5 linked regions of the Homo sapiens genome follow. The protein of the gene in region 1 purifies or fractionates together with the protein of each later gene. This does not show direct contact. Each region holds a gene or a part of one and is shown in the gene's direction. Other genes may lie near its edges. The genes, in order: PLCD4, WDR70, C12orf43, UTP25 and ATAD3C.

Region 1 (6,176 bases):
CTCGCTGGAAACGGAAAACCCTTGATCCTCTTTCTTTGGCCTCTTCTCTAGTGCAAATGATTCCTTTTCCTCTGGTTCTTCTTCCATGGTTCCTGTTTGCTATTCCTTTAAATGCTGGCTCGCTGCCCTTTCCTGAGTTGTCTTCAATTCAAGTGGCTCTCTTGAGTCTCTAAGCCCCTGAACCAGAAAGCCAGTTAGCCCCTGGCTGGGGGAATAAGGAGGCCAGTTATTTAGCTTTTAAGGAGTGCAGCTGAAATATACGCTCTTGTTCTTCAAAGTTTCTTCCTCTTGCCTCTTCAGTAGACTCATTTCCTGCCCTCCATTCCCTTCGGAGTGTGAGAAATTTACATTAATAATAAATACTTTACAAGGAACTTTCACGTTCCTCATTTCATTTAGTCCTCAGTACAACTTTGCAAATCAACAGTAATCTTTATTGGCCCTTTACTACATATCCCATAATGCTCTAATATCTCTATGTACCTTTTCCTTTTTCTATTTTTTTGTTTTTTTGAGACAGAGTTTTGCTCTTATTGCCCAGACTGGAGTGCAATGGCACGATCTCGGCCCACCACAACCTCTGCCTCCCGGGTTCAAGCAATTCTCCTGCCTTAGCCTCCCGAGTAGCTGGGATTACAGGCATGCGCCACCACGCCCGGCTAATTTTGTATTTTTAGTAGAGGATGGGGTTTCACCATGTTGGTCAGGCTGGTCTCGAACTCCCGACCTCAGGTGATCCACCCGCCTCAACCTCCCAAAGTGCTGGGATTACAGGCATGAGCCACTGTGCCTGGCATCTACGTACCTTTTCTAATACAATGACCTGTTGAAATGGGTCCTGTTATTAAGTCAGTTGTATAAAAGAGGAAAACTGAGGTTTAGAAAGATTCAATGACTTGCTCAAAGTCAACAGCTAATGAGAGAGGAACTGAGATTCAAACCCAGGTCATCTGACTCTTAGTTGGTGCCTCTCTTGAGAATGAGGATAAGAGATGGGATGAATGAGAGCTGGACAAGTGATCAAGGTATTCTGGGTCTAAACTCTTACTCCCTTTCATTCATTCATTTATTCACTACTTCAATGAATGCTTATTGAGTTCCTATAATGTGTCAGGACCTATGCTAGGCACCAGACATACATTAGTGCCTAGATCAGACAAGGACACTGCCCTCATGAAACTTAGAGTCAAACAGAAAACATTACAATCTGTTATTTCAGATTTGTTTGGGTGTTCAGAATAGAGTAGAGGTTGTAGGCTGAGTGCAGTGGCTCACGCCTGTAATCCCAGCACTTTGGGAGACCGGGCAGATAACCTGAGGCCAGGAGTTCGAGACCAACCTGGCCAACATGGTAAAACTCTGTCTCTACTAAAAATATAAAAATTAGCCAGGCATGGTGGTGCACGCTTGTAATTCCAGCTACTTAAGGAGGCTGAGGCATAAGAATCGCTTGAACTCGGGAGGTGGAGGCTGTAGTAAGCCGAGATCACACCACTGCACTCCAGCCTGGGTGACATGGTGAGACTCTGTCTCAAAAAAAAAAAAAAAGAAAAGAAAAGAAAAAAAAGAATGGAGGTTGTAAAGCAATCATTTCAGAAAATGAAATCGAAGAGAGTTAAAAGTTTAAGAGATAGAATCTCTAGGCCGGGCGCTGTGGCTCATGCTTGGAATCCCAGCACTTTGGGAGGCCGAGGCAGGAGGATCACCTGAGGTCAGGAGTTTGAGAACAGCCTGGCCTACGTGGTGAAACCCCATCTCCACTAAAAACACAAAAAATTAGCCGGGTATGGTGGCAGGAGCCTGTAATCCCAGTTACTCGGGAGGCTGAGACAGGAGAATTGCTTGAACCTGGGAGGCAGAGGTTGCAGCAGTGAGCTGAGATTGCACCACTGCACTCCAGCCTGGGCGACAGACCAAGACTCTGTTTCAAAAAAAAAAAAAAAAAAGAAAGAAAGAAAGAAAAAAGAAATAGGATCTTTTGTTACCTGTGCAGAATCCAGTAAACATCAGTCCAAGACTCTGTTTCAAAAAAAAAAAGCAAGAAAGAAAAGAGAAATAGGATCTTTTGTTACCTGTGCAGGATCCAGTAAACATCAGTCCAAGACTCTGTTTCAAACAAAAAAAAAAGAAAGAAAAAAGAAATAGGATCTTTTGTTACCTGTGCAGAATCCAGTAAACATCAGTTACATTTGTTTCGACCCCGACCCCTCTTGGTGTTTCCTTCCCTTGAACTTGACAATCAGATACTTTATCTGGCTACAGAGAGTAGTATCAGTCAAAAAACCTGGGCTCAGGTCTCCACTGTGTTTCTTATTAACTGATAACTGTGAGCAAGTCACTTAACCTAACTAACTCAGTTTCCTCATTTGTAAAATAATTGATAAAATGAAATAATGCACATGAAAAGTATCTGGCAACTGCAAATTTACCTGAGTGATTTATTACTGTCAAGAATGAAACTTTCTGGCCGGGCACAATGGCTCATGCCTGTAATCCCAGCACTTTGGGAGGCCAAGGCAGGCGGATCACTTAAGTTCAGGAGTTCGAGACCAGCCTGGCCAACATGGTGAAACCCCTTCTCTACTAAAAATATAAAAATTAGCTGGGTATGGTGGCGGGCACCTGTAATTTGAGCTACTTGGGTGCCTGAGGCAGGAGAATCGATTGAACCCGGGAGGCGGAGGTTGCAGTGAGTGGAAATCGAACCACAGCACTCCAATCTGGGTGACAGAGCGAGACTCCATCTCAAAAACAAACCAACCAACCAACAAACAAACAAAAAGAATGAAACTTCCACCAGGTATGGTAGCTCATGCCTATAATATGGGAGGGTGAGGCAGGAGGACTGCTTGAGTTCAGGAGTTCAAGACCAGCCTGGGCAACACAGTGAGACCCCATCTCTAAAAATAAAAAAATAAAAAAAATAACCAGGCTTGGTGGCACATTCCTGTAGTCCCAGCTACTTGAGAGGCTGAGGTGAGAGGATTGCTTGAGCCTGGAGGGCAAGGCTGCAGTGAGTTGTGATTGTGCCACTGTATCCAGCCTGGGTGACAGAGTGAGACTCTGTCTCCCAAAAAAAAAAAAAAAAGGAAACTTCCTGCCCAACTTCCTGTCCTTCTTCACAATCTCCAGGCCTTGTGAAACCTGGAGCAAGGAAGCTGGCCATGAGAGTCATGTTGTTCCACCTTCCAGGCGAGCCTCCTTGTAGCAACATTATTCTCAGTGAGACTGCACAGCCCAGTGGTGCAGGGCATGGCTCTGACACCTGGCGGCCTGGGTTCAAATCCCAGCTTCTACAGTTACTGATTATGAGACCTGGAGCAAGTTACCTAACCTCTCATGGCAGATTATATTACATCTACTTCATCACGTTACTGAGAACATGAGTGAGATGCTGCGTGGAATGCCCTGGGCATAGAGTGAGTGCTTGATAACTGTTAGTCATTGTTGTTGTTGTTGTATAAAGCCCATACTGAGATTGGAGGGAGCTATGGAAGGACTAACAGGGCCCTTTTCTCAATGGGAGTGTAGTCTAAGGAGATGTTGACAAATGATCCTCAAAACATCATATGGGAACATGGACAGTAAGAAGAAACCCTCAGGCCATAGTTAGTCACAGGTACACAGCCCAAGGAAGAAAATACAGGTAACTTGGCCATGTCACTAAGCCTTTGACTTTGATTCTCTCTGGGCCTCAGTTTCCTCATCTATAAAATTAGCCCTTTGGATGTTGTCCATTATAGTAACTGTGAGCTCCATTTGGCTATTTAAAATTAAATTAACTAGGTCGGGCACGGTGGCTCACGCCTGTAATCCCTGCACTTTGGGAGGCCAAGGCAGGCGGATCACGAGGTCAGGAGATGGAGACCATCCTGGCTAACACGGTGAAACCCTGTCTCTACTAAAAATACAAAGAAAAAAAAAAAGAGCCGGGTGTAGTGGGGGGCGCCTGTAGTCCCAGCTACTCGGGAGCCTGAGGCAGGAGAATGGCGTGAAACCAGGAGGCGGAGCTTGCAGTGAGCAGAGATCCTGCCACTGCACTCCAGCCTGGGAGACGGAGTGAGACTCTGTCTCAAAAATAAATAAATAAATAAATTAAATTAAATTAACTAAAATCTAATAAAATTTAAAACTTAGTTCTTCAGTTACACAAGCCACATTTCAAGTGCTCAGTAGCCACATGTGGCTAGAGGCTACTATATATGACACTGCAGAATAAAACGTTTTTCTCTTTAGTACTATAGCATAAAAAAAGACCAAAAAAAAGTTAAAAAAAAAAAGACATTTATCTCATCATAGGAAGTTCTATTGGATAGCACTGGACTCAAATGAACTTTTTTTTTTGAGACGGAGTCTCACTCTGTCCCCCAGGCTGGAGTGCAGTGGCGCGATCTGGGCTCACTGCAAGCTCTGCCTCCCGGGTTCACGCCATTCTCCTGCCTCAGCCTCCCGAGTAGCTGGGACTACAGGCGCCCACCACCGTGCCCGGCTAATTTTTTGTATTTTTAGTAGAGATGGGGTTTCACCGTGTTAGACAGGGTGGTCTCGATCTCCTGACCTCGTGATCTGCCCGTCTCAGCCTCCCAAAGTACTGGGATTACAGGCGTGAGGCACCGCGCCCAGCCTTGAATGATCTTAATGATTCCTTTTAACATTCTTTGAGGGTGGGAATGATTGAAATGATACACACTAGGTGGGGCAAGTTTGGGATCTAAAGGCTGGGAATGGGTGCCATCTGAAAGGCAGGGCTCTGGATGGAGTGGGAGGAAGGATGGACTGTAGGTGTGCTGGGATGCTCCCATTCAGAGCTTCTCACCTAGTGTTCCCCTGTCCACACTCCAGGCAAACTGCGGCATGTGCTGAGTATGGATGGCTTCCTCAGCTACCTCTGCTCTAAGGATGGAGACATCTTCAACCCAGCCTGCCTCCCCATCTATCAGGATATGACTCAACCCCTGAACCACTACTTCATCTGCTCTTCTCATAACACCTACCTAGTGGGGGACCAGCTTTGTGGCCAGAGCAGCGTCGAGGGATATATACGGTGCAGTGGTGGTAGAGAAGGGGTCCAACTCATGAGAGGGACCATGTAGAAAAGTGAGGGGAGCTGTCAGTGTCTAACAGATTGGGACAGTGTTGTGGGGGTTTAGGGGCTGAGGAGCCCTGGATACCAGAGACACTTGGAGGAGATATTGAAGACTGGTGGGAGAATGGTAATGAAACCCTATGGGTCAATGGAACTTCTCTTTCACAAGCTATGAAACTCTCCTGGAACTCAGAGGCCCTGACAGATTTATATTTAACAAATTAATAAACAGATTGTTAAATGGAAGGCAATAGAGAATAGGAGTTAAAAATATAGGTTCTGGAGTCAGACCATCTGAAATTATATCCTAGCTCCTTCACTTGGTACTCTGGGGCTAAGTATTTAACTTCTATACCTCAGTCTCCCCATCTGTGAAACAGGGATGGTAACAGTGCCTATTCTGTCTGGGTTGTTGTGAAGAGATAATTCATATGTCAATAGCTAATAAGCAGTTCTGATTTTATTGTGACTAATCATGGATTAGATTGAATAGTCAAGATATCTTTCTATTACCAGCAACTGAACTAGTAGCTTCAAGGGATACAAAGATGAGTGGAACATATAGTTTCCACCTTAGGAAGTCTAGCTGAGGAATTAAGGTGTAAATTTACTGACAGTTTGAATAACCAGGATGTTGTATAGGGATATAAAGCCAGAACACCACTGGACACAATGGCTTATGCCTGTAATTCCAGCACTTTGGGAGGCCGAGGCAGGGAGATCGCTTGAGCCCAAGAGTTCGAGACCAGGCTGGGCAACATAGTGAGAGCCCGTCTCCACAAAAAATGCAAAAATTAGCCAGGCATGGTGATGTGTGCTTTTAGTACCAGCTACTCGGGAGGCTGAGGTGGGAGGATCGCTTAAGCCTGAGAGGTCAAGGCTGCAGTGAGCCATGTTCACACCACTGCACTCTAGCCTGGGTGACAGATTTAGACCCTGTCTCAAAAAAATAAAAGTAAATATAAATAAATAAGTAAAACCAGAACACCAGATGCATCATGAGGCAATGTGTGATGGATTGCTATGGAAGGACTGTGAGTCGGGTGGGCTGAAGTATGGGTAGAGATCAGCGTGAGCTTGCAGCAGTGTC
Region 2 (6,176 bases), on another chromosome or scaffold:
ATCTTTGTGAACTAAAAACAATAACCACCTGGTCTCAATCTGCTGTCCAGAGGGACATATTGTATGTGTGTAAGAGCATGAAATTCGCTTCAGTGGTAAGTGTAACTGAGTTATGTGGATTTAGCATTCCATGATGCCAGCCTCACGTGGTAATGGACCTGGGAAACCTAATTTTGTGGTTTCAGGGCTGTCCAGAAAGGGAGATAATGTCAGGAAGAGAACATCTTTTTTATTTTTATGGAGTATCACCCAGATAATAAGTGATGGAATGGAATTTTACTTCAGGAACACAACTTTATGGTTTAAAAGAAAATGTCTGAAAGTTAGAGGTAAACCATCAGGATGATATTTGATATAGTAGACTAGCCATCAAAGTACCAGCAGGATTGTTTCCATTTTTATCTGGCCTCTTTAGTCAACCACTGCGCTTTTCCTTTGCAGAGTGTTGTTCGCTGCCTGTGGCATCCAAAGCTGAACCAGATCATGGTTGGAACTGGAAATGGATTGGCTAAAGTCTATTACGACCCCAACAAGAGTCAGAGGTATTTCATAAGTATTGCCTGTTTTAGATGGATGACAACAACTGGGGGGAGGGATTTCCCTCCCACCCCCGCTTTTATTTATTTCCCACTTTGATGGAGATCCACCCATTTAGAAAATGCAGCTGGAACAAAGTAAAGCCTCAAACTCCTGGTATTGTGCTTTAAAAAGGATTTGAATATTGCCCTTGATCCACACTGAATTCAAAGCGAAAGTTTCCTGGGAATTTGCAGTTGTTTAGCTGAAATGTTGAGTGCAAGGGGGAAAAACGTTCTGCCCACTTTGCATACCACCCTGGACAGAGGCATTAGCAGTGATACATGTAAGAGATTTAACAAAGCAGGGAACTAACCACTTACAGGAAATGGAATCAGCTTGTCCATTTTGCTTCTTTCTTTTTTGGCTTCTAGCAGTTTGGATGTTTGGCAAGATTATTCTCTGTCCGCAGAAAGGGACAGCACAGATACGTTTCCCCTCCACCCCCATGCCCACCCAAGTTTCAAACTTAAGCATACCACTGTATTTCAAAAGTCTGAAAACGTAACTAGAGGTTCAGTCATTTCCTCAGTTATTTCCGTTTTGCTTAGGCACAAAGATGGATATGTGTCATCACCCAGAAAAGATGGTTTTGTTTCTCTCTCTTAAAGTACAGTGACTGATAAGCTTTCTTTAGAGTAAGACTTGGTTAACTAGCATTAAAATTCACATGTGAAATTTACTGGGGTCCCATATAAACCTGTTTTAAGGTCCCACATCCTTTGAGGAAAGGAAAGCCAGCCTCTATTAATGAATATTCATTGGCCATAATTTTGCTCTGAATAGAAGCAGACAGCCCCATCTTCCTTCAGAGCTTCCTGGACTAGAGTTGGAATCCTGGCCTTATACAATAAAGTATATTTATGGTATTTGAAAACAAATAGGATTTTATTTGTTTTTTAAAAAAGAAATTAAAAATGCTAATGTACTTAGGATGGGAGTCTGTTTCACTTGAGAAAATGATGAGCCTCATTTGATAGCACCCATTTAGAAGGCACTTTCTGTGGAAGCTTTGCTTTAAGAAATTTACTTATTTGTATTTGCTTCTCTTGAAAAGGATAACTCTGTACTACTAAGGAGAAGTGCAATGTTCTAAGCACATTTTTGGTTAATCCCACACATTCTTGGGCCATAGCCCCTCGGCAACACTGCCAAGCCAACTCAGTTCCAGACACTTGTACTCTTGTATTTGAAAAGTGGACATATGCCATTTGGGGTGTAGACCACCCAGGTTGCTTTAGTCTGAGACATAAACTAAAATTTTAACCCTGTGACCTTTAGAGTGAAAAGGTTGGGTAATTTTATTATTTAAGATCTTAAAATTTCACATTATTCCTATAGGTTTTGTAAACTTGTGTCCTGTTGCCCTGTTACCTCTCCAACCCTCTTGCTTGTTAATAACCACTGACTGACAGACTTGCTTTTCCATAAGTTTAAGCTTTTATCACTGAGAGCCCATCTGTTGCCATCCCTCAGAAAGTCAAGTACTTGTGTAGATGGAGTGCATGCACAGAGTATGTTCCTGAAAGTATCTCATGTTTTCAACATGAAATTTTCTGTTTCTAAGACCAAGTAAAGAAAATAATTTGCTTTTACACCCGTTAGGGGAGCAAAATTATGTGTGGTTAAAACCCAGCGGAAGGCAAAACAAGCTGAGACTCTAACTCAGGACTACATCATCACCCGTAAGTCGTTAACATGCCTCTCAATCATGCATCTCTCTTCTACTCTCATGTGGTTTTGATTGCATAGCTTTAGAGACAGAGAAAGCCCTCAGAATTCAGGCATATATTACAAAATTGCCCATTCATGTGGATAGGACTACGAGTCATGTAACAGCTAACCTCTGTGGCTTCTGTGACTCATCACAGGGACAGGGTTATTTCATGCAGCTTTCAACCCAAAAGGGAAAAGCCTGTTCGAGTCCAATACATTACTTTATAGCAGTTTTTTCAAGAGTAACAGTCTATTCCAAGTGTGAACAAGAAAGAGTGCTGGTCTTGGAATCAGGAGGCCTGGGTTTGTCCAGTTCCACCACTGAGTGGCAATGTGATGTTGAACAACTTAACTTTTAATCAGGGAAGTGTGGCGACCAGAGGAAGGGTCTCTTCCAGCTTTCTCTGAAATTCTATGACCATGTGCTAGACTGATCCACAGGAATTTGTATATAAAATTAACTACCTGGGGTATGAGTAGAAAGCTTACTAGGGCAGAGTGGTTTCTCTCACGTATGTCACACAACCTCATTAATCTGGCAGATGTGTGTTCCCAGAGCCACAATCTCAAACCTGCAACAGGTGACAGCTAGGAAAGAAATAATGGATGCTACAGCGATTATCATTAGTGGATGGCCCTGTGGACTTTATCAGTGACTCAGTCTGGAGCCCAGGGGGCGCTGTACTGCTGGGTTTTCTCACTGGTGGTGGGTCTCATATGAGACCAAGTCCCTTGGAGCTTATGACCAGTAAAGAGATCCCATGACACTTTTTGCAAGAGTAGAAGTGTTAAAGTCAGTGTCATAACTAGTCTAGCTCATGTAATTACATGCGGCCTACTTAAATTCCTCCAGTCGTTTGAAGTGAAAAGCTATTTTCCCCCTCCTAAAAATACTGTTGTGTTGTGTTGCCCAACTGAGTGACGGGTGGCTATGTTTCTCAGCTCCCCTGACTCAAGGCAGGCATGTTTTACTGGTGAGTGATATGGTCTGGCCTCAGTTGGCAGTATAGGTAGAAGGTAGGAGGGGATACTGGAAGAGGTTTTGAGGTGTTATAGACATTTTATTGATATTATAAATTCCCTTTAACCTTTCCCTTCCTTCCCCTGGTCCCCCGGGAAAAGTTTCTTTTAAAGGGGGTTTAATCTGCACGTAAGAGTCAAAAGAAACTGCTAGTACTTTTCTGGGGCAAAAAAAGGGAGTTATTTAATACTTCCCCTAATAACTCTTTCCTTTTCCCCTAGAATATTATACTGTTTTCCTTTTTAAATTCTTATAATCTTTTATATTCTGAAATTTAATTTTGACATTGAGTAAACAGTAACAGCAATTGAACGCATATTACTTTGGTTTTTATTTTCTTATTTTGCTACCATATAGCAGGAGGGATAAGGCCCCATTAAGTCCCCATGCCAAGAGATTTAGGCACCTCTTGCATTCATGGCAACCTTTATCCCAGTTTCAGTGGGATAAGTGTTCCTCCCTTCCGGTTACTCAGTGTTGTCAACTCCTCCTGAGAGGTGGTCACATTTCAGAAACGTGTGAAGTGATTCCAGTGTTTATGAGACATCTGAGGAAACTTCAGGGCTGACAGCAAGCTGTTGGCATTATTCACATTTGGGTCCTGTAAGAAAAAATAAGAGGCAGTCCCAATATGTGTTTCTTTTCAAAACCACGGTAATTAAGTTTTAACTGCTACCCATGGTTTGGGAGATGGGGAGCCTCACCGATGTTTCCATGACAATATTTGACAGTATTTCCTGAGTGCTGTTAGCTGCCAGGAGAGGTGACCAGTGAGTCTGGTCTCAAGCAAAATTGGCTAATTGGTTACAGTAAGACTGTCTTTTATTATCAGATCAAGACTGTCATTATGACTTCCATTTCATCTTTCAGTTAGTCATGCTTTAACTATGTTTTTGGATGGGAAGGTTATTGTTATAATGAAATTTTTCAAATGTGACTTCTTGTAGCTCATGCCTTGCCTATGTTCCGTGAGCCCCGCCAACGGAGTACAAGGAAACAGCTGGAGAAGGACAGACTGGATCCCCTGAAGTCGCATAAACCTGAACCTCCTGTAGCAGGCCCAGGTGACTGTGATCCAGCTAGTGACCTGCAGAGGGGGTTCAGAGGCAGGGTGGGGTAATTGATATAAAATTGGGAAGGTCTTTTGGGCCTGGATGCTTCTTTGTCTTCAGAGAGATTTTACTAGTGTTTTAAAAATGTTTTCTTTTTAGTAACAGAAAAGCTGATGCAGAATCCAGATGTATAAAGCTGATAAAAATTGAGCTTCTATACTGAAATAGGGAGGAAGACTGGGGCCCTTTCTGCTTGGTCTCCAACTAGAGTTTTCCTAGCTGGCCTCAGGGGAACTCGGGGGCTCAGTGGACCTTGGAACCCAGTGTTAAAACCACTGCTCTCAATATTGGCTTAATGTACAACACTGGGCACTTTGACCAGAATCCAGGCTGGATTAGGTTTCACACAAGGCAGAATGTGGCCATCATTTAGATTTGTGTTGATATCACTAGAAGATGAATAAAAGTCTTTAGAGTTTTTGAGAAGTAGGTACCAGAAGAAAGCCAAGCAGCACTGGCTAATAGTATAGCACGTACCTTGACTAGAATTTCATTTTCTGTTATCATCTGTGTAGTTTCTATTTGGTCTGCTCCTTCAGCATAGAAAACATTTTGCATATCTATCTTAATTATTTTTTTCATTTTTTTCTAACACCGTCCTAACTAAAGTTTCCAAAAAAGATTTTTTCTTGGATTATTGTGAACCCTTCTAACTATGCACCTTAGTCTCAAGTCACTCCCTTTCTCCCACCTCACTTCTATTTGTCTTATACACAGCTTTAATCCCTAACTCCATTAGCTTTTCATGTTGCTACAGCCTCCAAACCTTCATAAGCTTCCCACTGTCCAATTGTCTTTCCAGAGATTCAAGGTTCTGTACAGTCCAAATCAAATCTACCCCTGTAGCTTTACACCTTACTTCTTTCCTGCTCTGATCTTTTGAGATTACTGTTGGTTCAATCCTGTCCCCAAATACCCATTGAACTTTCTTCTTTCTGCATTTTTGTACTTAACCCATTCTGCTTATTGAAAATAACCTTCTTTACCTCCTAAGCTTTCACAAATTGGATCCATCTCTTTCATAAAGACCTGTTCAACCACCTGAGCCTGAAGTGCTATCTTCCTCTAAGTGCCATAATAGTTACTGGCCATACAAATTATCTCACAGTTAATTATTTCCTGCCTTATTTAGTTTCTTCTTATCTTGATTTATGAAATTAATCTTTTAGTGTTATTTGGCTTTTCATATGTTTATTTTATCTTCCTAAGAAGTCCTACATCTTTCTGAGTACCAGTCACTATACTAGCTGCTAGAGATCTAGTGGGGAACAAATCCCTGCCCTTAAAGAGGTTCCTATTTCATAGGGAGATTATAGTACAGCAGAGCAACATGAATCAGTATGTTTAGCTTATTTGTTTTCTCTTATAATACTCAGCAAAGTACCTGTAAGGGACTTGGAAGATGCCAAGCCCTAAGATATGTTTATTTAAATAGCATCTAATGAATATTGTTTATTTTTATTAATTGAATTCTAAATGTTGATGCCAGAGGAACTTTTTAAAGCATATAGATGGCAAACTATCTGTAATTTTTTCTATATTGGTATCATTCTGTAAGTTAAGCAACTGAGACATAACAAAAAAATCTCTTCCTATTTAAAAGTGCTATCGGGAAGTTGAGGTTTGGTGATCTCTTTGGTTCTGATTGTCATAAATCTAAGCTGAAAGGATGAAATTTAAGTACTCTTGAGATTTGTGCTCAGATAAGTACAGTGTACACAGATATACCTATGTATCCTCATGCTCATTCA
Region 3 (5,927 bases), on another chromosome or scaffold:
CCACCATTGAACCACTGTGTGGGGTCAAGAACAGGTGCCTGGGTGGCATCATCTCTACTCCCTCTCCCCGGGTTGCTTTTCCTGAACAGGGCTTGGGGGGCACCTTTGGCATACAGGAAGGGAGGTTAGGGAAAGCACCCAGGGCATTGCTGCGTCTGCCTCGAGGGCATTGCTGAGAGCCTTGTTCTCTGCTGTGCACAGTGGCATCTCCATCTGCACTCACCAGACACATGCTTCCTGGCCTTGTGCCTCTAGAGAAATGTGGTTTATTTTTATGTTAGAGAGCCTGTGAAGGCTGAAGCTTTTCTTGATGACAGTCATCATCTGCATCGTCATCATAGCTACCATTTGCTGAGCAGCTACTTGTGGCTAGGCCGTGTGCCACAAGTGCTTGATATCCATTTTCCCCTTCAATCCTTGTGACAACCTTAAGAGGTAGGGACCTTCATCGTTCCCACTGCACAGGTGGATAACAGAGACTCAGAGAGATAAAGTCATTTGCTTAAGGGACATAGCTAATAAGTGACAAAACCGGGATTCAAAACCCAGGTCTCTGAAGTCTGAATGAGGTCCATGAATTGGATCAATTTGCATTTCCTAGTTGTGATGTTGTACTATAGCGAGGCACAATGTTACCATTGCGAGAAAATGGATGGAGGGTCTATGGAACATCTGCATTATTTGTTGCTACTGCATGTCTACAATTATCTCCAATTTCTTTTAATTAAAAAAAAAAATTTAAAAACAGGTCTGCCCTGCTCCAGAAGCTGTCCTCTGAACCAGTTTTCTAGATTGGTCATATTTCCCTTTTCATGCTTGCTGCTAGGAAGCTCAGAGCAAAATGTATGCCCTCTCTCTAACAAGTGTATAGGACTTCCTGACTACACTTCTAGGTCTTTCTGTTCCTCTTGCCCTTATATCTCTTTGTCCTATTTGAAATTGCATTCATTTTGTTAAATTCTTTTCTTTTTTTGGAGATGGAGTCTTGCTCTGTCACCCAGGCTGGAGTGCAGTGGCGCAGTCTCAGTTCACTGCAAGCTCCGCCTCCCAGGTTCACGCCATTCTCCTGCCTCAGCCTCCCGAGTAGCTGGGACTACAGGCGCCCGCCACCATGCCCGGCTAATTTTTTGTATTTTTAGTAGAGATGGGGTTTCACCGTGTTAGCCAGAATGGTCTCGATCTCCTGGCCTCATGATCTGCCTGCCTTGGCCTCCCAAAGTGCTAGGATTACAGGCGTGAGCCACCATGCCTGGCCTCATCTTGTTTTACTATGTCTTTAAAACTTCTTCAACACTTACTGGAATAAAGTGGGCTTTAAAGAAATGAAGCACTGCAGTTCGCGTGGCAGAGGCTGGTCAGCATGTTATAACCAGACCATCAGCCCTCTTACTAGGCCAGCACGCTTTCGCTTTTGCATTTACAATCACATACCCCATCCCCTCCACTTGAAAAAGAATTTTGTTTTTGTCGTTATCCAAAAATCTCATCTTAAATCAACCGTCTCGTCTCCCTGTAGCTTCATTACCATCTCAGAAGCAGCAAAGGAGCCAGCAAAAGCTAAGGTACAGAAAGTCGCTTTGGAGGATGATGGTGAGTGGTTATACTTAATAGAAGCTATCATTTATTAAGCACCTAATGTGTGTCTGGAGGTGGGCGAAACAGTTTTGGTATATTCTTTTTTTTTTTTCTTTTTTTGAGATAGGAACTCTCTCTGCCACCTAGGCTGGAGTGCAGTGGAGCAATTATAGCTCAATGCAGCCTCAACCTCCCGGACCCAAGCAGTCCTCCCACCTCAGCTTCCTGAGTAGCTGGGACCACAGACACACACCACCACCCCTGGCTAATTATTTATGTTTTTTAGAGACAGGATCTCGCTATGTTGCCCAGGCTGGTCTTGAACTCCTGGCCTCAAGCCATCTGCCCACCTTAGCCTTCCAAAGTTCTGGGACTACAGGCGTGCACCACCACACCTGGCTAATTTTTGTATTTTTTTTTAGAGACAGGGTTCTGTCATGTTGCCCAGGCTGGTCTTAAACTCCTGGCCTCAAGCTATCCTCCCGCCTCAGACTACCAAAGTACTGGGGTTACAGGCATGGGCCACCTCACCATTCTTTCATCTGCTCAGCCCCTGTGGTGAGGCAGGTATTATGATTGAACCCCATGTACAGACAAGGAGACTGAGGCCCTGAGAAACGAAGTCATTTGCCTGAGGCGGCCTCGTCTGTGTCACCCTGAGCAGGAGCACTTTACTGCTGCCCTCCACAGCCTCGCCCATCTGCGTCTGTCCTGTACCAACACATTTGCCACTTTGAAGGCTGCCTTAGGTCAGGAGCTCAAGTGCTGACTTCCAGAAGCCTCTGAGGGCTTGCTGAGCTGATGTGGCTGCTGGCTCCTGCTCCAGCGCGCCCTCCACTGGCTCCATCAGGCATCAGCATGACCCTTGGCAGATGCAGAATCACTTTGTAGTTAGACGACTGATTCCTGGGTCTTTGCCTCTGGACCAGGAGCTCCTGAGGGCAGAGGCGGGGCAGCTTCAGCACCTGGCACCTGGGAGGAGGGGCTGGCATCTGGGGGTGCTGACTCTGCTCCTTTGTTTTTTTTGTTTGTTTGCTTGGTTGGGTTTTTTTGTTATTGTTTCTTTTTTAAATTTTTTTATTTTGTGTCTTCTTAAAATTTTTTTTTTGTTTCTCTTTATCTTTTCTTTCTTTCGTTTTCCTTTTTAAAATTTTTTTCTTTTTTGTTTCTTTATTTTTTATTTTTTTATGTTTCTTTTTGTTTTGTTTTGTTTTTGTTTGACTCTGCCCCATTGAATCTTAGGTTTCCGCCTTTTCTTCACATCTGTCCCTGGAGGCCGTGAGAAGGAAGAGTCTCCCCAACCCCGCCGAAAGCGACAGCCCTCCAGCTCCAGGTGAGAACTCACACCTCTCCTCACGTCCCCTCCTTTTTTCTCCTCTTCTGTCTTGGTGGGTTCCCTGGAATAGCCAAGCAGACTCCAGTCAGGACCAGGCCAAGGCAGTGGCCCTGTCAGGCAGCTGGAGAAATCATGAGCTCAGCGGGAGGGAAAGCCCTCTTGGCGGCAGCTTTGGATGTTTACTGCTTTTGAGCACCTGTCTTGGGCCAGACACCTCACTTGATCATAGTTGCCTCCTGGGACATCCCTGGGAGGCCTGGACTCTGTTAAGATCCCCGTTTTAGAGATGATACAGTCAGAGAGGTTAAGTCACTTAAGGAGGTCACAAGGCTGCTACGCCCAGAAGCCAGTATTGGAAGCCAGGTTGGCCTCACTCCCAAGCCTGAACTCACTACCTGCCTCTCTCTGCGGCCACCTTCTGGTGACCTGGACCAAGGGAGGACAGCGAGAGGCAGCTCTGGGGCTGTGTCCTGACTCCAGCTAACCCAGGGTACCCTCTCGTTGCAGCAGTGAGGACAGTGACGAGGAGTGGCGGCGGTGCCGGGAGGCAGCTGTGTCGGCGTCCGACATCCTACAGGAGTCAGCCATCCACAGCCCTGGAACAGTGGAGAAGGAGGCAAAGAAGAAAAGGAAGTTGAAAAAGAAAGCCAAGAAGGTGGCCAGTGTCGACTCGGCTGTCGCTGCCACCACCCCCACCAGCATGGCCACAGTCCAGAAGCAGAAGTCAGGTGAGCTCAACGGGGACCAGGTGTCGCTTGGGACCAAAAAGAAGAAAAAGGCAAAGAAGGCCAGCGAGACCTCTCCATTCCCACCAGCAAAGAGTGCTACAGCTATACCTGCAAACTGAACCCAGCCATGGGCACAGGGCTCAGCCAGCTCCAAGGACAAGGTGTCCCCCCCACCCTGGGGACAAGGCATTTCCAAGCCCCACCTCCCTCTCCAAGTTCAAGGACTGGGCTGGCAAACCCAGACTGCCCATGAGACCCTGATGGTGATGAAGGCTTGCTCGAGAGTTGGGCCAAAAAAGTGGCTGTAGGGTGAGAAGACCAATCAAGGCCTGCCCCTCTGTGCTCCCACGGAGGGCTGGCGGGGGCGCTGTGGTTCCAGAACATTTCATGACCTCAGGAAAAAAGGAACCTTCCAGTTATTTGAGACTAGTGGCCAAGTGGTGAAACCTCCATCTCCCTAGAACTGTCTGAGGTGGGCAGGGGAAGGGAGACCTTCCCCACCACCTCCTTAGCCTGGTGTGAGAAACAGTTTTTAGAAAATGAGAGAAGGGATCCCCAAGAGGCCAAGGCCCAGAGAAACTTTTGTTCTTCTCTCCTTAGCCCACATAGACTTCACAGAATCGTCTGAGAAAGGAGAGCTTTTTCACCCCTGGCTTTCTAGAATTTTCTTTGTCTGCATTTGTGAATATACCACACATGATGGTGTCTCTGAGCCGACCAGATTATGGAAACTCAATTGTCAGAGGACCCAAAACAAAACTTAGAGTGATTTGGATATTGCCTCTCTGTCAATGCTGAACCTTAAGACATTTTAAGTAAACATCCTCCTCCTCTCTACACCCCCAGGATTTGTGCGTTCACCCCACCCAAGACTTCAGGAAGTGTCATAGCACTCGTGGACTAGGTTTCATGGGACAAAGGCATTCTGCAAGAAGTAGAAGCTTGTGGCCGGGTGCAGTGGCTCATGCCTGTAATCCAAGCATTTTGAGAGGCCAAGGAGGTGGATCAATTGAGGCCAGGAGTTTGAGACCAGCCTGGCCAACATGGCGAGACCCCATCTCTACTAAAAATACAAAAATTAGCTGAGCATGTTGACACACGCCCGTAATCCCAGCTACTCAGGAGGCTGAGGTGGGAGAATCGCTTGAACCCAGGAGGTGCAGGTTGCAGTGAGCCGAGATTGCGCCACTGCACTCTAGCCTAAGCAATGGAGCAAGACCCTATCTCAAAAAAAAAAAAAGAAAAAGAAAAAGAAAAGAAGTAGAAGCTCATGGCCAGGGATGGTGGCTCACACCTGTAATCCCAGCACTTTGGGAGGCCGAGGCAGGTGGATCACTTGAGCCGAGTTCCAGACCAGCCTAGGCAACATGGTGAAACCTCGTCTCTATAAAAAAAAGAATACAAAAATTAGTTGGGCATGGTAGTGAGCGCCTGTGAGGCTGCTTGTGAGGCTGAGGTGGGAGGATCCCTTTAGTCCAGGAGTTCAAGGCTGCAGTGAGCTGTATAATGCCACTGCAGTCCAGCCTGGGTGACAGTGAGACCCTGTCTCCAAAACAAAATTTTTTTAAAAAGTAGAAGCTTGAGGTTAAGATGAAATCTGGCTTTGTCATTAGAGTCTCAGCAGAGCAAGAAAAGCAGAGATGTGGGGTGTGAGAGCGTGGGTGCTGGAGCCTGTCTCCTCTTCGCAGGCCTCTGGCCTGCCCCAGCCTCCCGCTACCTGCCCAAACCCCATCTGAATGATTTGTGGACAAGCAAGAAGTTTCCACCGCATTTCTCCTTGACTTTACTAAAAGTTAAATAAACGTGCCACTCGCCCCGGCTGGCTACAAGCTGCAGGGGGTGCCGGGTCACCCCAGGCCTTTTCCTGAATCCCAGGGTAGACGCGGTACACTGAAGGCCAGGTTCTCAGCAGCAGGCCCAGGGATGTGGGACCATGCTTGTCCTGGGTTCACAGGCTCCTTTGTCCCTCCTGGCAGTGCTCAGGACCTCAGACTCCTCAGGGTGGCTGCGAACTGCCCTCAGCCAGCCAGGCCCCCAGGCTTCTGAGTGTTAGTCCTGTCCACACAGGTAGCTCCTGTGCCCTGGGGTCACCTCTTTCTTCTCCTGGGCACCTCAGCTTGGCCAGTTCCCCGGCCCTGCTCAGCTGCTCGGGCCTTGCTGCCTTGTGAGCTCAGCTACTCCTGCCCCAAACAAGGGCAGGGTCTGCAGGGCGCTCGAGACAGAGGAGCTGCCCCACCAGGACCTGGACTTGGCACGGGTTGCGAGGCTCCCACAGGAGTAAGGACGAC
Region 4 (5,723 bases), on another chromosome or scaffold:
ACTGCAAGTCAGTCCCTTGGGTGTACACCACCCCCCACCACAGGGCGGCACTGTGCAGCTGGGAAAGAGATGGAAATGCATACGCTGTTGAAACTAATTGCTTTCTCATGATGCCTAGTGGGTCCTTGGGCAGGGTTTTGTAAATGGATGAACTTGGGACGTCTGCCATGGAGTTAACATGTATCCAGAGTGGCAAGAAAAGACTAATGGGAGTGTATTTACAATCTGTACAACTTATTTTATGTACTGGGTCTGACCTTGTCTCCATTCTTTTTTGCCTGATTATAATAAGGCTAATGTTCCATTTTAAGTGCCTGCTTTTTAAGTTTTCTGTGACAGATTTTTAAATCCTGGTCTACTATTCTTTCCCATGATACCTCAGCCTACCCAGTGTAGGATCAAGAAATGTGTATTTATTTTATCATTTTCTTAAGCCAAATATTAGGAATTCGAATATGTTGTCATAAAAAGAATTCAAATATGTTGCCACCTCAAGTTAGAATAACTTTTGTTCTGTTACTTGTGCCACTGTTTTTCTCCATTAGCAGGAAGCAACAAGCATGAACTATGCCTCTGTACAACTCCTAGGTAGTTTTTCTAGAACTTGTTTCTCAAGTTGACATAGCTCTTTCTTTCCAATTCTGACAGGTATACAATAAAAGGCATCAGGAACCTGATTTTCTATGAACTGCCGACATATCCACACTTTTACAGTGAAATCTGTAATATGCTGAGAGCCACCAACAGAGGAGAAGAGGCCACGTGGACCTGCACTGTTCTCTACTCCAAATATGATGCCCAGAGGTTAGCTGCCGTGGTTGGTGTGGAGCGGGCGGCACAGATGCTACAGTCCAACAAGAATGTCCACCTCTTCATTACTGGAGAAAAATGAAATTTTGTTGGGCAGGAAGTGGTATTTGGCATGATACATAATGTTTGATTCTATGCCATTTGGACCCAATTCTGATTACTTACAGAAGAAGGACTGATACAAAGAAAGTGCATGAGGCAATGTCAGTATTATCTGACATCTTTCTTTTCAGGTCATGTGTCCCTGAAAAGTTAAATGTAAACCAGATTTTGGTAAATCCCATCTTTCAGAAGTGAAGAGGGGGCTAGAAGGACTCTGAGAAGTTGGTAGAAGAAAACTCCCACTTGTGAATATTTTTGTGAGACATAAATTCTTTTATTACGATTTACCTCTAATTTATTACACTTAGTAAATTCTTCCAGATTTTTCTATTTGTTTGACACTTCCTTAAAGTAAGGAATACACATTGCTTGCGAGAACTGGTTATGAGACATTGGAATACTTCTTGCTGCTACATGTCATCTTAATTTTGGATGGCATGGGTTTTGTAAAACTTATTCTGCCCCAGCCAAACTTTTTTGAAACCTTAAATAGTCTACCTTAATTCAGCCTAGAAGAGTACATTGATTTACTGATCTTTTTTCATATTCATAATACTAAATGTTTTAGTTTTGTTCAAATATATGCTTAAAATCACGTTATTTAAAAAACACATCAGCTCTGTCTCAAGAAGTAATTTTGTTGAAACTCCATGTTAAAATATCCATCTTCAACAGTAGTGTCTTCATAATAACTAGTCATTTTTTCAGTCATAAACAGATGCAAATAAAAAGGAAATTACACTTTTAAAAACATTTTTATTTTGAAACATTCTCAAACAGAAAAATTCCAAGTACAGAACCTGAACCATTTGAGAGTGAGTTGCCAACCCAGTGGGCCTATCACCTTTAAATACTTTAGTATATATTTCCTGTAAACAATTAAGGGTATTGTTTGTGATTAGGAATGCCCCACCAATAAGGATAATGTGAATATTTCAGAATCCAAAAAAATTCGAAACACGTCTGGTCCCAAGCATTTCAGATAAGAGATATTCAACTCATCCTAGTATGGACTCGTAGTTTCTTCTTTTATTCAATGGGTTACGGTTTGTTACATCATTATTTCTTTAGATGCGTAACTGGTCTCAAATATGGCCGCTGGGAGCACCTTCAGGTTAGCCCCTGTGTACTTTTGACATGTCCCCCATCTACTTGGGCACTGCTGTATTTTTTGACAATGAGACATTCCAGGTTTCTCTACTCCAGCCCTGCTTGCTTTTAGTAGGAAATTATTATAAAAGGTTAGATTGGAGTGCTTACTATTGTGGTGCCACTCATCCCAGGCTCAGTGGTCAGAACTTGGGAATTGTGTACATGTATGCACACACATATGTACACACGTTGTCTAAATTTGCTTCACATTAATATCTAAATTTACTTTCATATCCATATATTGAAAACCATGAATTCACACCAGTACCTCCAATTCTAGTCCAACAACACAGGATTGCTTCTCATTTTCTTTCCATATTGATAACTCCTTTCTCAGACAGTGGCTCCCATTATCCTCAATGTAATAACCCATGATTGGTACAGATTTTTTTTATCCTTGGGCACGCTTAAAATTACTTAGCAAAAACAAAAAGTAAAATCAGTTTTGAAGTAATATTTCTGCTAAATATTTAGACATTTTTACTTCTTTTTCTTCAGCATGGTAAGTAAAACCATTTATTCCATATTTAGATGGTTTTCTAAATTTCAGAAAATTTAGTTAGATAAAAGCCGACCGAACCCATGCTACAAAGAACTTTTTGTATCTATAGGCATGCCCTGTGGTTACTGGCGTAATTGTGCTGCTGTTTATCATAGATCCTGTATATTATGAGAATAAGAAATGAGTTTATTTACCTCATTCAGAAATGTGAGGCGAAGGGACTGTAATTACCTGGATCTTTTTTTTTTTTTTTGAGATGGAGTCTCGCTCTGTTGCCCAGGCTGGAGTACACTGGCATGATCTTGGCTTACTGCAATCTGTGCCTCCCGAGTTCAAGCGATTCTCGTGCCTCCGCCTCCCAAGTAGCTGGGACTACAGGCGCATGCCACCATGCACAGCTAATTTTTTATATTTTTAGTAGAGATGGGGTTTTGCCATGTTGGCCAGGCTGGTCTCAAACTCTTGACCTCAAGTGATCTGCCCACCTCAGCCTCCCAAAGTGCTGGGGTTACAGGCCTGAGCCGCCACGCCTGGCCAATTACCTACATCTTTTTCTACTGCCATATTCTTTTGCCTGTGAATTGTAGTTCATCTCGTGGTTTCCATTATTACTATTCACACGACTCCCAAATCTCCAGCTTCTCTGGCTCTCCACTCACATGTGAGTCTGGATTTCAAATCCATGATGTAGCCCCAGAAATAACCATTTTATTAAGCACCCCTAGTGATTTTCATGCTGGCATAGAGCCAAACCCAGCCAACTGCTTCTTGCCTGCAGAGAACACTGAGGATTTCAAGTGTGAACAAAGTAGTGTTGCTTTGTTCCTGGCTCAGCACCTGAAAAGAAGGTAAGCCTCTGCAGTTAGCCCTGGCTCCTTAGTGCATTGCAGAGTGGAGTCTCTGCAATGGTTTTATTAAAAGGATGCCTTGAAGATCTGGTCTCTCTCAACACACAATAAGCGAGAAGAGAGGCTACTGAAATACGGATGCGTGAGCTGGAATTACACACTACCTTGATGTTAACAAGGCTCATTTGCAGCAAGCAAGTGCCTATATAGGGTCTGAAATATAGACAAAGGATGGTCCCAATCCTGGAAACAGTGGAATTAAAAGGTATGGAAAGGAACTTACCCAGAAAGTAACACTTTTAAATGTTTTTTCTTTTCCCATAGTTAAAACAACCAGCTTAGCACTTTTCTTTTTGAGAGAGAAAAAGCTTTGAATCGTGGATGCTTCTCACAGCTGGCTGCACCACGTGCAGTGTTCAAAAAACAAGAACAAGCTAATCATAGAGAACCAGCAGCAGCTAAACAGCCCTCTGCTTGCTTCCAAAGGGCTTATAATTGAGCACAGATGGTCCTAGTGGAGATGGGGAATGTGTCCCTGCTGACTCCTCATACCCCAGAGGACCAAGGGGGGCTCATGAAGGCTCTCAGCCCTGATTGTGCCCTCGTGAGGGCAAGGAGCTATGCTGCTGAAGGAGGAAAGGGAAAGGCAGGTGGGGCCAGACCCTATTGGCCATCTGACCAGCCTTCCCAAGCCCACGTGAGCAGATCTAGGGTCTCAAGATTACAGAAGGCCTGGGGTGAGGGAGCAAGAGTTGGAAGTTCTTTATAGTTGTCTGAAGAGCCTCATTGTCCAACTGCAGGGGCCTGAGGTGCCCAAAGCTTCGTGGAAAAGTAATGTCAGTGGAATGCTCAGAAGTGGCTCTTTTCAGGGCACGGCTTCTGAGGAGCGTGGGGCCACCACAGCTAGCCCTCCCTCCGTCTAGCCATCCTCTCCTTCCAGTCCCTTTCCCATCTTTTCTCTCAAAGGAGCATGGTAGTGATCTTCATTACCAAATTTCTACTCCACACTTATTTTAAAAAGCTTTTCTGAAAGCCTGGCTACATAGAATTCTAAACAGATTTCAGTCAACTTTTAATTAGAGTCAATGAATGGGGAGTAAATACACAGATAATCCAAAATTGATGTAAGCATTGGAAGGGGAAAGAGGGAACGCTTCTTTCCCTCTGGGCTTGGTCATTTCCTCCCAAGCAAACCCCGCGACGTTCAGCCGTCTTCCTCCTATGCCACGTGCTCTCACCAGAACTGCAGCAAAACTGCATTTTATGTCCTGTGTCTAAAGCTAAACACATGTTCCTGTCTACTTTTGCTTTGTTCCTGTTTCCCTTCTGTGAGGACCTTCCCCTCCTCAGATGTGGGGAGTTGCCGCCTCCACTTGCATTACATGTATTTCAGAGTAGGTCCTAGGCTCCCCTTACACCTCTGGTCACGTTGCCATTATTCCTATGGTAGATAAAGGGGATGAGAAAGAACAGAGCTCCAGGCCTTTTTCAAACAAACTGGTTTTCTCAGTATAGCCCTATGCTCAAAAGGAGTGAGGACAGGTATGTGACTGCCATAAGGAGCTGTTTGCTTTGCACAGAGAAATCTAATCTTTCTCCTGCTGGGCAGCTCAGTACAGATGTCCCCTCACTGCTGGAAGAAACACCTGCCCTTGCTTGTTCTCCTGATGGCCCCTCACAGTCAGGTGTGGGATGGCACATTTCTAGGTGCTCCTCGCCGAGCTGTCATGGGCTTCAGTCTTGGGCCTCTGCAGCTGGCTGTGACCAGGTGGAAACTGTAGCCTTGGCTGACCCAGAGAAGGAAAGGAGGCAGTCTGCCGCTTGGCTGATTTAGGAGTTGTGCTGAATTCCTGCCCATCTGTTCTCCCAGCTGAGCCAAGGCCAAAGCTGTCTACCTTTTGCCAACCTAAGGAATGACACAGAGCATGGAGCACCATCACTGAAACATCTGCCCCAGTGCCCTGCCACCTTCGTCCTCACTGACCTCTGCAGCCTCTCTCATCTGCCAGTTTTGATTCCGCAAGGAGAGGTGGCCCTGGGCTCACAGCTGGTGTTTGTCCACAGATGTTCATGGGTTTCTTTGTGTTCTCTCATTTTTTCAAAGCTGGGTGTTGGGACCAACATCACCACTGACATTCTGTGGCTCTAAACAAGTCCTCACGACCACTTCTCAGTTTTCTCATCTTTATGAAGTATGGAGTAATCCCCACTAGCCTTATAGAGGGACTGTGTGAGAAGGGAAGAGACTGCTATTGTTTGCCCTATATCCACCTACTTCCCTAGTTCCAGAACGCTGGACTTTAATGAGA
Region 5 (6,176 bases), on another chromosome or scaffold:
CCGACCCCTCCACTGCCGCCTGCTCCATGCTAGACCAGCTTTCCGGGTCTCAGTTTCCCTATGCCCTCCCCTTCCCTGGGCTCCCCGACACCCATGGCTGCTCGTAGCTCTGGCACCATGACCTGGCTTCTGTGGCCTCCAGGCAGAAGCTTTTTTGCTAGAACTCAGGGCTCTGCCACTGCCAGTTTAACGGCCATGCGCCCTGTGGGTGCTGAGTGGACAGGGCTGGTGTTAGGAAGGGGTGCGGCCATCTCCAGGCCCCACAGCCGCCCCCTTCCTGCTCAGCCCAGGCCTGGCTTGCGTCAGGAAGGGGGCGGAACTTGGCTGTCACAGGTAGAGAGTCCCTCTCAAGGGGGCATCTGGCATGGGTGTCCGCCTGGCTGCCTGTCTTCCGGCCTCCACCTCGTGGTGTGGGAGCTGCTGCCTTGGCCGGCCCACTTGGGAACTCCTTCCCCAGGCGTCTGAAGCTGGCCCAGTTTGACTACGGGAGGAAGTGCTTAGAGATCGCTCGGCTGACAGAGGGCATGTCATGCCGGAAGATCGCACAGCTGGCCGTGTCCTGGCAGGTGAGTCAGGCTCGGGTGCACCCACCCAGATGGAAGCCCAGCTGCTGTGCAGATGCTTGGTTGCGCCAGGCCTGTCCCAGCACCGGTGTCACGTGGGAGCTTCTGTTGAGGGGTTTTCAGTGCACAGATGTGACACGGGGCCCCTGCCCCAGTTGGGCCACTCCACGCAGCAGCGTGCACCTGCTCCAGCAAGAAGGGTGGGGCCATGTCAGTGGCTGACGGTCACAGGTCAGGAAGCCAGTGCGGCCTCCTAGTAGCCCGGGCTCTGCCAGGTGGGGCGGGAGGCTTCTGATGCTCACCTTGGCAGACAGGCACCCCCCAGTGTGAATGGTCATCAGGACAGGCCCCTTGTGAGTTTGGTGGTGGGGGTGGAGGGACGTTGTGTTTCTTGGACCAAGTCCATTGGCTTGGTCCTGCTTGACGGGCCCAGACACATGGGTGGGAGTTGTGGCCTCTGATTGTCCCACAGCCAGTTGTTTCTCAGGGGCACCCCTCCTGCAGCTCCATGGCTGCCCCAGGGCCAAGGAGCTGGGACTCACAGGAGTGTGGGCACGGCCATCCAGAAAGCTTTGGTCTTTGGGGGTTGCTGGAAAAGCAAAACCAGGTCTGTGGGGCAGAAGGCACCCTGGCCATGCACAGGCATCGCTGCCTCTGGGGTCCACAGAGTCTGTGTGACAATCTGGTCACTCGATCTAGCAGCACATTATGTGTGACAGCTTAATGAAGTAGCCAACTACCTTGATTTGAACGTAGGAGCCGGGGTATGTAGGGAGCTGTATTAGTCAGTACAGGCTGGGTTATGCCGCTGTGACAAAGAACCCCAGATCTCAAACCCCGTCCTTCTGGGTCAGCTGAGGTCTCTGTTCCAGGCCATCCCCACTTGGGACCAGGTCTGTTTCCACAACTAAGAAAGCAGAGGCCGGGCATGGTGGTGGCTGATGCTTGTATTCCCAGCATTTGGGGAGGTCAAGTCAGCCAGATTATTTGAAACCAGGAGTTCAGGACCAGCCTGGAAAGCAAGTCAAGAACCCATCTCTACAAAAAATAAAAAAAATTAGCTAGACCTAGTGGTGCATACCTGTGATGCCAGCTGCTTGGGAGGCTGAGGTGGGAGGATCACTTGAGTCCAGGAGGCGGAGGCTGCAGTGAGCTGTGATTGTGCCACTGCACTCCAGCCTGGGTTACAGAGTGAGACCCTGTCTTAAAAAATAAGAATAATTTGGTCATGGCTTATGCCTGTAATCCCAGCATGCTGGGAGGCCAAGGAGAGAGAATCACTTGAGGCCAGGAGTTCGAGACCAGCCTGGCCAACATGTCGAACTCCACCTCTACTAAAAATACAAAAATTGGTCGGGCATGGTGGTGGTGCATGCCTGTATTCTCAGCTACTCGGGAGGCTGAGGCAGGAGAATCGCTTGAACCCAGGAGGTGGAGGTTGTGGTGAGCCGAGATCGTGCCACTGTACTTCAGCCTGAGCAACAGAGTGAGACTGTCTCAAAAAAAAAAAAAAAAAGAACAGGAGTGTGGTCGACTGCTGGGCCTGCCATAACCACTGGGGCGTGTGTGCCCACAGCTCTGAAGGCTACAGGCCCAAGGTCAGGGTGCCAGCTCGGTCCCTCCCTGTGGAGTGTTCTTTGCTGGGTCCTCATGTGGCAGAGAGAGCAACTCAGCTCTCTCTGGTGTCCCTTATAAGGACACTCATCCTGCACTGCTCACAGCGGTGGTGGTGAGCCAACACGCCCAGCACCAACTTTGTCCTTCAAGAGTTTTTTTCTTTTTGTGCCGGGCACGGTGGCTCACGCCTGTAATCCCAGCACTTTGGGAAGCTGAGGTGGGTGGATTGCCTGAGGTCAGGAGTTCAAGACCAGCCTGGCCAACATGGTGAAACCCCGTCTCTACTAAAAATACGAAACTTAGCTGGGCGTGGTGGTGTGTGACTGTAATCCCAGCTACTCAGGAGGCTGAGGCATGAGAATCACTTGAACCCTGGAGGCGGAGGTTCCAGTGAGCTGAGATGGTGCCATTGAACTCCAGTCTGGGCTATTCAGGATCCCTTGAGATTCCATATGAATTTTAGGAATGGTTTTCCTATTTTTGTAAAACATAATTGAGGTTTTCACAGGGATTGCATTTAGTCTCTATGTTGCTTTGATGTCTCTCAGCAATATTGTGTGGTTTTCTCTTTTTGTCTTTTTGAGACTGAGTCTCGCTCTGTCGCCCAGGCTGGAGTGCAGTGTTGCGATCTTAACTCACTGCAACCTCCGCCTCCCGGGTTAAAGTGATTCTCCTGACTCAGCCTCCTGAGTAGCTGGGATTACAGGCACGCGCCAACATGCCCGGCTAATTTTTGTATTTTTAGTAGAGACGGGGTTTCACCATGTTGGCCAGGCTGGTCTCGGTCTCCTGACATGAGGTGATCTGCCCGCCTCAGCCTCCCAAAGTGCTGGGATTCATTCAGGTGTGGGCCACGGAGCCCGGTCAGTTTTCACTGTGCAAGTCTTTCACCTTCTCGGTCAAGTGAATTTCAAAGTATTTTATTCTTTCGGATGCTATTGTAAATGGAAATGGTTTCATAATTTCCCTTTCAGATTATTCATTGTGGGCCAGGCGCGGTGGCTCATGCCTTTAATCCCAGCACTTTGGGAGGCTGAGGTGGGTGGATCACAAGGTCAGGAGATTGAGACCATCCTGGCTAACATGGTGAAACCCCATCTCTGCTAAAAATACAAAAAATTAGCCGGGCGTGGCGGCAGGTGCCTGTAGTCCCAGCTACTCGGGAGGCTGAGGCAGGAGAATGGGGTGAATCCTGGAGGCGGAGCTTGCAGTGAGCCGAGATCGTGCCACTGCACTCCAGCCTGGGCGACAGAGCAAGACTGTCTTTAAAAAAAAAAAAAAAAAAAAAAAAAGATTATTCATTGTTAGTATGTAGAATTGCAGCTGTTTTTGCTGTTGATTTTGTATCCTGTAACTTTGCTGATGTCACAGGGTTGTTTTTTCCAATATGGATTCTAGGATTTTCTACATATAAGATTATATCATCTGAGAACAGGTGATTTTACCTCTCCCTTTTCAGTTTGGATGACTTTTCTTTTTCTTGTCTAATGGCCCTGGCCACAACTTCCAGTGGTATGTGGAATAGAAGCAGTAAAGCATTCTTGCCTGGTTCCTTACTCAGAGGAAAAGCTGCCAGTTTTTCACCACTGAGTATGTCACCTGTGGGCTTGTGATATATGGTCTTCATTGTGTTTAGGGCGTGTCCTTCAATTCTTGGTTTGGTGAGTGTTTTTATCATAAAAGTGTGAGGTGGGTGGATCACCTGAGGTCGGCAGTTCGAGGCCAGCCTGACCAACATGGAGAAACCCCGACTCTACTAAAAATACAAAATTAGTTGGGCGTGGTGGTGCATACCCATAATCCCAGCTACTTGGGAAGCTGAGGCAGGAGAATCGCATGAATGCGGCAAGCAGAGGTTGCGGTGAGCCGAGATCCTGCCATTGCACCCCAGCCTGGGCAAGAAGAGCAAACTTCTGTCTCAAAAAAAAAAAAAAAAAAAAAATGGCTGGGCGCGGTGGCTCACGCCTGTAATCCCAGCATATTGGGAGGCTGAGGCGGGTGGGTCATGAGGTCAGGAGACTGAGACCATCCTGGCCTGGCTAACATGGTGAAACCCTGTCTCTACTAAAAAATATAAAAAATTAGCTGGGTGTGGTGGCGGGTGCCTGTAGTCCCAGCTACTCAGGTGGCTGAGGCAAGAGAATGGCGTGAACCCGGGAGGTGGAGGTTGCAGTGAGCCGAGATGCCTGGGTGACAGAAGGAGATGTCATCTCAAAAAAAAAAAAAAAAAAAAAATTGTATTTGGCCAAATGTTTTTCCTGCAACAGTTGAGAGGGTCATGTGGTTTCCTTCCTCCACTCTGCTAATATTGACTGATTTTTGTATGTTGAACATTTTGTATGTGGAACATTGATTGATTTTCATATGTTGAACTGTCCTTGCATTCCAGGAATAAATCCTGCTTGGTCAGGGTGTGGAATCCTTTTATTATACTCCTGAATTCGTTTTGCTGGCATTTTCTTGACGACTTTTCCAACGATGCTCATCAGGGATATTGGCATGTCATTTTTCTTGTGGTGTCTTTGGCTTTGATATGAGGGTAATGCTGGCCTCTTAGGATGAGTGAGGAAATGTTCTTCAATTTGTCCAAGAGTTTGAGGAGTGGTACTGATTCTTCTTAATGTTTTGTGAATTCACATGTGAAGACATCAGGTCCAGGTCTTGTCTTTCAACTTTTATAGTTTGAAGATTTTAGGTTCCCAGAAAAGTTGCAAGAGTAGCACAGAGACTTCCTGGGCCTGGGACCTTGCCACGTGGTGAACATCATGTGTCACTGTTGGACCCACCCGCGACCAGGTTTTGCCCCAGAATCCCACCCAGGAGGCCACGTGACATTTAGCTGTCACTTCTGGTGGGCTCCTGCCAGGTCCCGTGCTTCCTGGAGGGGTGGCTCCGTGAGCATCTGCTCACCCCCTTTCCTCTGCTGGGCCCTGGGTGAGGTGCAGCCACTCGGGTGGACCCTGAGGGTCCCTGCACCTGTTTGCCCTCTCTTGGGTGGGCTCAAGACCAAAAATGATGTTGAGCAGTCCTGGGCCCCTGAGCCACAGTGGCGGTCCGGCTCCGGTCAGTGTCTCCTGCGCTCCCGGGCCCCCGACCCACAGTGGTGGTCCGGCTCCGGTCAGTGTCTCCCCACACAGTGGCTCTTGGTGAGGGATGGGCGCTGGCAGAGGGGACGGGCACCACGTGGTCATCCCCATGGCAGGTTCTATCGTGGTGACGGTGTTGTGGGAGGATGGTGTGCTGCTGCCCCTGCACCCCGTGAGATGAATCCTGCCTCTGGGAGGCATAGCTGGGATGGGGCTAGGGACCCGCTCAGCTGTCCGGGAAGGGTCCCCTGCCCTGTGCTTCCTCCAGGCGTCCTGGTGCGCTCTTGAGCATGGCGCCCAGTGGGGGTCCCCACACCCTCACCCTGACCCATGGGTGCCTCCCCTTGGGGACTCCATGCCCTTTGCTGGCATTGGGATGGAGAGTGACCTGTCCATGGCAGAAGGGCTGGACCTGAGGCTGCCTGAAGCCACACCAAGGGCCACAGCCCCAGCAGCTCCAGCCTTCACATGCTAGATGCCAAGCCCTGTGCCCAGGAGGACAGGGAGGTGGGGGCAGAGGTGGCCTTGGTGCCACCAGCCACGTGCCTCAAGGTGGGCAGTGGCTGCCTCTGCCCTGGAGGCCTGTGAGGGTCAGGGTCTGAGGGTCTGAGGTGCACTATGACCCGGGGGCACTGCCTGACCACGGCTGAGACACGCAGAGGGTCTGCAGTTCCCACCTGCCTCTGGGAAGCTGCCCTGGGTCGGCCGTCAGTGAGGCTCCGCCTTGGGCTTTCTATTAGAAAGTCATTGAGCAACATTGGTGCTGAGGACGCAGGCAGGGCTGTGGGCACTGCAGGGGCTGCCCCCGGTGTCCACACACGTGCTGGGCTCTGCCGAGGTGCGGGTAGCCTGTGTTTCACGCTCAGGCCATCCTGGAGCCCCTGGTTTGGTCCCTCCCCACCTCAGGGCC

The links.
Region 2: the proteins of PLCD4 (region 1) and WDR70 purify together in Homo sapiens (affinity purification with mass spectrometry; one large-scale study listed by BioGRID and IntAct). This does not show direct contact.
Region 3: the proteins of PLCD4 (region 1) and C12orf43 purify together in Homo sapiens (affinity purification with mass spectrometry; one large-scale study listed by BioGRID and IntAct). This does not show direct contact.
Region 4: the proteins of PLCD4 (region 1) and UTP25 purify together in Homo sapiens (affinity purification with mass spectrometry; one large-scale study listed by BioGRID and IntAct). This does not show direct contact.
Region 5: the proteins of PLCD4 (region 1) and ATAD3C purify together in Homo sapiens (affinity purification with mass spectrometry; one large-scale study listed by BioGRID and IntAct). This does not show direct contact.

The regions. Positions count from the first base shown.
Region 1 is NC_000002.12:218,623,187-218,629,362, forward strand, and holds part of PLCD4 (1-phosphatidylinositol 4,5-bisphosphate phosphodiesterase delta-4), read left to right. Parts: intron 1-4,842; coding exon 4,843-5,044; intron 5,045-6,176. UniProt on the Homo sapiens protein: Hydrolyzes the phosphatidylinositol 4,5-bisphosphate (PIP2) to generate 2 second messenger molecules diacylglycerol (DAG) and inositol 1,4,5-trisphosphate (IP3).
Region 2 is NC_000005.10:37,720,674-37,726,849, forward strand, and holds part of WDR70 (WD repeat-containing protein 70), read left to right. Parts: intron 1-441; coding exon 442-542; intron 543-2,181; coding exon 2,182-2,261; intron 2,262-4,260; coding exon 4,261-4,377; intron 4,378-6,176.
Region 3 is NC_000012.12:121,001,984-121,007,910, reverse strand, and holds part of C12orf43 (protein CUSTOS), read left to right. Parts: intron 1-1,516; coding exon 1,517-1,590; intron 1,591-2,817; coding exon 2,818-2,908; intron 2,909-3,418; coding exon of another isoform or gene 3,419-3,421; coding exon 3,422-3,758; 3' UTR 3,759-5,927. UniProt on the Homo sapiens protein: Plays a role in the regulation of Wnt signaling pathway during early development.
Region 4 is NC_000001.11:209,850,556-209,856,278, forward strand, and holds part of UTP25 (U3 small nucleolar RNA-associated protein 25 homolog), read left to right. Parts: intron 1-648; coding exon 649-892; 3' UTR 893-5,723. UniProt on the Homo sapiens protein: Component of the ribosomal small subunit processome for the biogenesis of ribosomes, functions in pre-ribosomal RNA (pre-rRNA) processing. Essential for embryonic development in part through the regulation of p53 pathway.
Region 5 is NC_000001.11:1,462,143-1,468,318, forward strand, and holds part of ATAD3C (ATPase family AAA domain-containing protein 3C), read left to right. Parts: intron 1-457; coding exon 458-566; intron 567-6,176.